2 separate regions of the Homo sapiens genome follow, and region 1 is linked to region 2. The links come from fine-mapping of genetic effects on gene expression. A gene starts in region 2. The other region holds a variant in brackets. All regions are shown on one strand. Distances are between the middles of the regions.

Evidence for each region.
Region 1: its variant is fine-mapped to the expression of CRHR2 in thyroid (GTEx, PIP above 0.99). The same link has a PIP of 0.9 or more in aorta, atrial appendage, breast, coronary artery, esophagus mucosa and esophagus muscle.

Annotation. Positions count from the first base shown.
Region 1 is chr7:30,706,937-30,711,318 of GRCh38, forward strand. The region is part of intron 1 of LOC105375220 (a long non-coding RNA gene); the gene reads left to right. Among named protein-coding and RNA genes, the nearest start is that of CRHR2, 27 kb to the left of the region's middle. RefSeq lists an enhancer at 503-1,003. The variant T/C (reference allele first, on the strand shown) is at 1,771.
Region 2 is chr7:30,680,393-30,684,774 of GRCh38, forward strand. CRHR2 (corticotropin releasing hormone receptor 2) reads right to left here and starts at 2,064. Exons shown (of 12, transcript NM_001883.5): 1 at 1,786-2,064; 2 at 1,523-1,648. The coding sequence starts at 1,888. It overlaps LOC124901608 (a long non-coding RNA gene), which reads left to right and starts at 2,227. Exons shown (of 2, transcript XR_007060275.1): 1 at 2,227-2,681. RefSeq lists a silencer at 2,086-2,135.

The DNA of each region.
Region 1 (4,382 bases), 27 kb after region 2:
GGGCTTAGGATTTCATCATTTGGCTTTGGGGTGGGGGAGTGGTACACAAACATTCAGTCCATAAAAGGGGGACTACTAGGGTGAGGCAGGGCCGTGGGCAGAGCGCAGGCCTGGGGCATGTGGGCTGGGTAAGGCAGACTTTGGAGGTTTCCACCATGGGAGTGACAAGGGCTGGAACGTGGGAAGAATAGGGTGGAGGATGGCTTGGCTGGGACACGCCCAGGGGCAGGGAGATCAGGCAGCAGACTCTGCAGGGACGTGATGGTGGCCTGAGTCCTGGTCCAGATGCTGCTATCCAGAGAACACTGCAGCCAGAAGGGACCTTGACAGTCACTCGATTCATGCTTCCATCTCACAGGTGGAGAAACCAAGGCCCCATGAGGCCTGGGACCTGGCATTTTCAGGAAGGCCACCCCCAGGAAGGCTTCTTCCCCAGCCACTTAGCTGGCCCTCTCCCCAACCTTTTTCTGCCTGCTCAGTGAGACAAATCAATGACACATGTCTCTTCCTCTTGTTCTGGGCCACGCTGCCTCTACGGCAGGGTGATGTTGTGGGGCCTTGAGCTTGGGGCTCCCCAGAGGGCAAGAGCCTGAGACAGCAGGTCAATAAAAGGTGAGTGGTCGACGGGATTGGCAGATCCTGGACTCAGCCCTTCACTGGGCAAATGTCAGGCCCAGTGGCTGGGCAGCTTGGGGGCATTTCCACCTGAATGCAGGGACAAGACCACCGGCCAGTGGCATCAGACTGGCAAGGTGAGGAGGTGGCCTTTTGTAATGGAGTCACCTGTGTCCAGAACAGCTGTCCTCCCCTTGGGCCATGGGAGGACAAAGGAGAGAGCCAGAGGAAACCAGAGCCGAATGCCACATTGACTTCAGAGTGCTCTCCTGGTGGCTGGTGGGGCTGGGTGGGGTAGTGTGAGAGTGAAGCCAGCGGCCTGCAAGGTTTGTCCTCTGCCTAGTTCACTTGGCCTGGAGCCTGAACTGGGAGGGAGGATTCCGGTCTGGCTGTAAGACTTACTGGCTGTGAGCCCTTGGAGAAAAGGGATTCATCGTCTGGACCTCAAGTTTCTCATCTGTGAAATGGAATCGTCTCCATGGCTGAGCTGCCTTACATTGCCCCTGGGTCATGTTTACGTTCTTACGGATCCAGCCTCCCTGCCAGGGGTTCCCTGGTCTCTGCTCGGCTACTCCCTGGGCTGGGGCTGATGGCCTCTCAGGCAGACACTCTGATCATCATCATAGCCTGCCGGTGAGTAGTCTGAGCTAGGCTGTCAGTAGAGAAGGGTGGGATCCACTTTCTTCCACTCTGATCTCTTCTCCACAGCCCTCAGTTATTCCTGGAATTAGACAAAGCCCTGAAAAAATGCGAAGTAGGGGACGTGGAAGTATGATAGCTGCAACTAGCACCTCCTGGCTCACCCCTCCCACCTTCCCAAGATACACCGAAGTTATCAATAATGCTGAAGGCTAGAAATAAGCCAGAAGCAAGGGGAGATGTTTAACTAATTGAAGCCCAAAGAAAGGAGTGAAACAGAACAACACCGAAGCCACTGTTTGCCCTGCCTTCCGTCTGGGGAAAGGAGGAAAGCCGTGTTCCTACTGTGTGAGGGCTGCATTCTCCTTGGCCTCCCTCATCCATATCTCTTACCATGTGGTGACAGCTGTCCTTTGAGATTTAACTCAAGTTGCTGTGAGCACGCTATCCTGCCTCCCTGAGGGGGTTCAGTGACCTCCATGGGCATGTATGTGTTCCAGGGAGCTCATGTTCTCA[T/C]GGCCCCCTCCAGTCAGAGTCCCAGCTTCTTCTTTTTTTTTTTTTATTTTTTTTTGAGACAGGGTCTTGCTCTTGTTCCCAGGCTGAAGTGCAGTGGCATAATCATAGATCACTGCAGCCTCCACTTCCCAGGATCAAGCAATTCTCCCACCTCAGCCTCCCAAGTAGCTGGGACCAACTGTGCCCAGGTTTTTTTTTTTTTTTTTTTGGTAGATAAGGGGTCTCTCTATGTTGCCCAGGCTGGTCTCGAACTCCTGGACTCTGATTTCTTCTGTGGGCCCAGCTGTGTGCCAGCTCTGATCAGGAAATATGGGAAGAGGAGACCCAGGCCCATCCATGAAGATGAGATGGGGGGAGGAAGAGAAGCAGAGGAAAAATCCAGCCTCATTCTTGGGAGGCTGACTTACCCACAGTCAGGGAACAGCCTAGGCTGGGTGTGAGCTGGAGGCTGCGAGATTGTGCAAGAGGGATGGGAGGTCACAGGGGCTGGAACCTGTGGCAAAGGATCCCAGGGGAATCAAAGGATGGAAACGATTGGGTGGTAGAAAAAAGGGAAAGAAACTCATTCCCATTGCTTCACGCTCTGGGAAGGCCATCACAATGCTATTCTTAGAAGGAAGCATATTTAATGGGAAAGTTAAATCCCACACCCATCTAAACCCTTGACTTCTGCATTTCCAAATACAGGGCTTGGTGAGTTACCTGAAACTGTATTAATAACAGCTAATGCATACATAGCCTTGGTCCCTGGTAGGCATAATTCTAATCCTTTCAGATATACCCTATAAATGTATATAATCCCTATATAAAACCATATTGTTACCTGTGTTTTAGGGATGAAGAAACTGAAGCACAGAGAGCTGAGGTCATGGGCCCAAGGTCACAGCTCTAATAATAAGCAGTGGATCTAGGAGTTGACCCAGCAGTCTGGGTCAGGAGTCCATGCTCTTAACTACTGTGCTATGGTGCCCTTCTGTGGGAAGGGCCACGCAGCGCCTGCAGGTCCTTAGAAATACCTCTCTTGTTTTCCCAGGGCTTGCTATGAGAGTATCACTCACCCATCCCCCGCCCCTGGTCCTCCTGCTGAATTTCAGAGCCCATCTAGCCATCAACTACCCGCGCCTCCACTGCTCTTACCGGGAGGCTGTTTGTGAAGGCAGAATTGGAATTTCTGAGTAAAATTTTCTTTCTCTTTATTTCAGAAATATAGTTCTCTCAAACTGAGCACCAGAGCTATTGATTCAGCAATAATAGAAAGTATTTGTGTGGAGAACCATGCCTCCTTGCACAATCTGCTAATGTTCTCGTTGGCAGGTATATAGAATATTGACAAAGGAAATTCAAGTTGTCCTGAATTTCCCCCAGCTTCTCAGGAAGAAGGGGAAATTAGTTTTGAACATGGCATAAATACCATCACAGTTGTCCCCAAATATTGATTCTTTGCAGTGTCTTTTATTATATGCACATAATAGGAGCTCAATAGGAATTGACTAAAGCCAGATTGCCTGGTGAGAATTCTGTCTGCTGTGCTCTAGCTGTGTGACCTTGGGTGAGTGACTTCCGTTCTCTGGCTCACAATTCCCTTTGTAAAGTGGAGCTGACAATAGTACCTTTCATGGTACCTACCTCTTTGGATCATGGGGAACTACATGTATGAATCTAGGCCCAGTGGTTAAATCAGCGCCTGGCCCATCGTACACCCTCAGTCAAAGACTAGCTGCTACTGTGACAGGCTTCAAGTGGAAGAGTGAAAGCAAAATATGGCTTGGATGGAAGAGGTCACCCTGGCCACCCTGCTCCTGATGATTGGCACCAGAAGTGACTTTGATCTTTTACAGATATTTGCACTGTTGATGAAAATCTAGCAAGAGTTGGCAAATTAATACTGTATACAAAAATAGAGAATTTTGCAAGTAACTTTAGAGAACATCTAGCTTAATTCCCCTCATTTTAGATGTGCAAAGTGAGGCCCAGAGAGGGGAAGGGCTTGCTCAGGCTTCTACAGTTGGTCCCTGTCAGAGCTGGGACTTAAGTCCCTCTAGGGAAGAGGCTACGCTGCTTCTCCAGGTTCATTTCTTTATCCATGGCTGTGACCAAATAAAAGATTCAAAGGTCAGAGAATCAACATACTGCCTTTGGGAAAAGAAATCACAGCTCAAGTTGGCACGTTTGGCGCTGAGTCACCAGCATACACTGCTAGGGAGGGACAGCAGCCATCAGTTTAATAACCTCTAAGCCATGTGACTAGTTAACCAGGGAATTCTTTTTTTTTTTTAATTATTATTTTTTGAGATGGAATTTCATTCTCATTGCCCAGGCTGGAGTGCAATGGCGCAATCTTGGCTCACTGCAACCTCTGCCTCCCAGGTTCAAATGATTTTCCTGCCTCAACCTCCTGAGTGGGACTACAGGCATGCGCCACCATGCCTGGCTAATTTTGTATTTTTAGTAGAGACAGGGTTTCTCCATGTTAGTCAGGCTGGTCTCGAACTCCCGACCTCTGGTGATGCGTCCACCTCGGCCTCCCAAAGTGCTGGGATTACAGGCGTGAGCCACCACACCCAGCCAACCAGGGGATTCTTTCTGAGAAGTTCTCACCATGATTTTCTTCC
Region 2 (4,382 bases):
AGGCTGGGGTAAGAACGAAAGCAGAGCTCCCTGAGGTTCACAGGCTGTGGGCTGAGATGCTCCATCACCCCACTTTACCCTGGATGGCCCTTAATCTCCGGGCCCAGTCTGAATCAGGCATGCTGATCTCCATTGCCCCACCCCACACAGCTCACGGAATCCTAAAAATACAGTTTTATAAGGTCAGGACTAGGAAGGCACAGGGAAATCATTCCTTCTGCTTGCACACCTCCTAGCTTGGGGATCTTACTTCCTTCTAGGGAGATCTGTTTTAATCATGGATGGGAAGCATGTGCTCCCTGGGCCCACCAGAGCCCTCAGCTGGTGCAGCCAGGAGAGTGCGGCTTGGCATCAGGTGCAGGTACATCTCTCTTGCCTTCTAACCATCTCTCATGGCAAAGCCCTCAGCCTCAGCTTCTGAAAGCTTGTGTGTGTGTGTGTGTGTGTGTGTGTGTGTGTGTGTATGTGTGGTGGAGGTGGAGCTGGGCTACCAATCAGACACAGACACTCTGAGGATGTTTCCAGGATGAGAGGCTTCAGACAAACAATCCAGATAGGGTCTCAGCGTGCTTGACAACTGGGGTCCGGCTGGAGATATCAGGGGGGTTCTAGGTGGGGCAGTGATTGCTGCCCCCACAGCCTCCCGCAGACCACACACCTGGCTCCCATCCCATGTTCCACAGGGCACAGACAGGCACCTACCCACACGCACACACCCAGAACCCACACTGAACGACCCCACCTGGAGGCTGTGTAACTCCAGCAACCTCTACTGCCCTTTTCCCCAGAGCCTCAAGCCAGTCCATGATTTGCCAGGAGGAAGGCAGGCACAGGTTGTTCTCCTTGAGAGATGGTGTTGGGGTGCTGATTCAGACACCACTCATTATGGGGGCGCAGGAATAATGCTGCCCACAGCCCCTGACTCAGCCCAGCAGGTCAGTCCTGGGACCTCGGATTAGGGAAGATGCAACACCCCGCACCCTCTGGCTTAGCAGAACCTACGCCTGCATGTCCTCCCCACGAAACATGCGCTCGCCCCAGCCCTCCTGCCTCCTACCCTCCTCCTCCCCTCTGGTAGTAGGGTCTGGTCACTGCACTCACTCTGGGGGATTTGGGACTTAGCATATCCGCCCTCCTGGGATAGGTCCCCCTCCTGGGCAGGGGAAGCATTGTCTAAACAATGAAGCCCTAATGGGGAACTTCAGGCAACGGGAACCTACAATGAGGGAAGGAGGTTTACACTCCAAGAGGAGGAAGTATTTCCTTCTCCCCTTTTTGGGCTGTCACCGCATGGAGCACGGGAATTGTGGGCAAATCACTGGCTTACTGAGATTAGACGCTGTATTGGGGGTAGAAGCAGAAGGCGCGCCCCCAACACTGTAAGGGGTCCTTAACGCCCGCGGTCCGCGGTACCGCGGCCGTCAGCAGCTTTGTACCGCTGGGTCCGGAATCCTCTTTACTCCCTAAACCGCCTTCTCAGGAGGCCGGTGTAGAGCAGGCAGCGAGGGCCGGGGGCACTCACGGGTCGTGTTGTACTTGACGCCGTTGAAGTACTCGGGGCACGGCCTCTCCACGAGGGCTCCGGCAGCGCTGCGGGGCCAGCACGTTCCGATCTGGTCCAAGGTCGTGTTGCAGTAGGAGTAGGGACCTGGCGGCGGGAGAGAGCGCAGTAGGGCTCAGAGGGGCCCGCAGGGACGCGGGGCTCTCGGAGCGCGGGGTCAGGGGCGCACCCAGCGCGCGAGAGAAGGAGCCCGCGCAGCCTCCGACCGCTCGCCTCCCGCCTACCCTCGGGGTCCAGGGGTGGCCCCCAGCCGTCCAAGAGCAGCTCTTCAGCCAGCGCCAGGCTGCAGTTGGCCTCCAGCAGGCTGTGGAGCAGTGCCGCGTCCATCGCGTCCCGCAGCCGCGTGCGGAGAGGGAGTGGGAGTGCGCGCCCGGCGTGACTGCGAGGGAGTGGACGCGAGAGTGAGCGGCCGAGAGGGCGCGGGGTCCTGGCCCCCGCCAGCCCAGCCCCGATCTCCCGGGCAGCCTTTGGGCGCCACCTCCGGTCGCCCAGAGCTGTCAAGTGGGGACCTTCCCGGAGAGGAGCCGCCGAGTGCACGGAGCTGCGGGTACAGCCGCTCCGCCGCGGCCAATGGCTGCGCCGGGGGGCGGGGCCGGGCGGCTCCTCTCGGAGGGGCTCAGTCTCCAGCCCCCGGGCCCTCCACCCTGCCCAAAGTACGGCTTCTCAGTTCGCAGCTCTCTTCCACTCGCGGCGTCCAGAGGAGGGCGGTGGGCTGGAGAGCGTGGGCCTGGGGTGACGGAATGCTCTGTGCGGGGATCGCAGGCCCCCGAGCTGCAGGGGGCAGCAAAGCGCGCCCACCTGCCCGCCTGCCCGAGGAGAACACCGCAGCTCTGCTAATCGAGGGACAGCCGCAACCCAAAGTTCGGCAGCTTTCCGCCTGAGCTTCCCCTCCCTGAGCGAGGACACTGGAGGGAGGCAGAGACGGAGAGCCCATGGGCAGATCTGCATCCTCCAAAAGCCTCCATAGCCTCTGGGAAGGAAATGTATCGAGGAGGCCTGGAGGGAAGCAGGGAGACACCCATGAGTCTAATGAGATCAAGTGGCCTGAGTGGGTTGAAGTCCTTGGATCAGACCGTGGAAGCTGGAATGGAGAGAGATTTCGGAGGGGCAGCCAGACCTGGTGAGGAGGAACTGGAGTGGGTGGCTGGTTTTAAGTAGGAGCCCAGAGGCAGGGATAACATCAGGTCTCCTGCTTGAGTGACTGGGTGGCCATTTAATCAGATGGAGTAAGTCTAGGGGAGAAATTGGCTGAAATTATCTGGAAGGCTTTATACACCCAGTTGTTAGTGCCTTGGGCACCAGAAAGAATAAAGGAAGAAGTGAGAATGTGTCTCTCTTCCTCAAGGCTTGGGCAGGGCTTCACCTGACCCTGGTTTCCACACCAGTAGCGGGGCAGGGGCGGGGAGAATCAGGCCCCACAGCAGGTGTGGAGGAGCTGGAAACCTCCCCAGAGAACTTGCCCAGGCCCCCCACCCCACCCTGGCCCAGAATGCCTCCTTGGTGATCTGCTGTGGCTGCACCCTCAGAGTGCCCAGGGCGGGCCTGCTGTGTCTGCCAGCTGAGTGGGGCATTGGGCTCGGGAAGCAGGGCCTGGGGTAAGGCATGCTTCCACTCAGGCTGCATTTTGGTCCAGCCTCTGACTCTGCTCTCCCTGCCATGGTACCCCAGGCAGGATGCTTGCCCTCTCTTCTGGAGCTTTCTCCATCAGTGAAATCTTCCCCGAGGCCCCTCTCAGCTCTGAGACTCTCTGGTTCTGAGTTATGAGACGGAGAGTCTGGGGAAGACATACATGTGTGTTGTGTGTTGTTTGTTTCTATCTTTAGAGGGCAAGGAGAGCTGGAACCTAGTCTCAGAAACCAGTCCTGTTCCCCTGCCATCCTCCACATAAACCTAAGCTGCTAGGAAAGGCTGAAACCACCATGAACTAGCACCATGCCCTGGGCAGAGAGAGGCAAAGCAGCAGGCAGGCTGCTTTTGTGTGCTCCGCTCTCACCAGCCTCCATATTAATGGTGCTGTCACTGCCCAGGCAGAGCGAGTGAGACCACACTAAGACCAGGGCTGAGCCCTGGAATCTCTCCAGGGCCTGCTGACTGGCAGGAACAAGATGCTGAGCAGCCAGCCAGGTCTACCCTCTGCCTCCTGAATGGACAGTGAGAGCCCAGGCTCAGCTCTGGGCAGCTGCAGAGGTAGAGGTTCCTTGGTCTTCATATTATCCAGTGCCAGGAGCAGGGGAGGACCTAGGCAGAGTCCTACCCTCCGCTCCTAGACTGAGCCCTGTTACCCAGGGTCCCACACAGGCCAGAGGGTGGCTGGCCAGGTCAGCCCATGTATTCACAGGGCAATAGTGTCCCTCATATACAAGGGATAGCCCTTCACACAGCACGGTGCAGCACAGAGGAAGGGAGAAATCCTAAGCCAAGCTTAAGTTATTATCCTTGTTCATTACTGCAGCCACCACCTAGGTGGTGCCTAAAGCACCTATAGATGCAGCTATGTCAAGAGGTGGTGTGCTCCCAATGACCAGAGGCCAGGGACTTCTCATCTCATGCAGATTTCTGCAGAACAGAGGGTTGGCCTGGGTGAACTGGATTGCTCTTAACTGGGAGAGCTCACATACCAAAGATTCTTCTGGGAAGTGACCATTTCAGTGGCAGAGTCAAAGGCTGTTCTGCATCCTGAATGAGCAGTTGGGGTCTGAGCACATACCCACAGACCCACAGACCCGAGGTCCCCTGGATGTGGGGCCATTTCTTCATGGATCTTATTATTATAGGCACAGTTGTCATTCGAGATGTGACAGAGGGAAAACTAGAAAAGGTA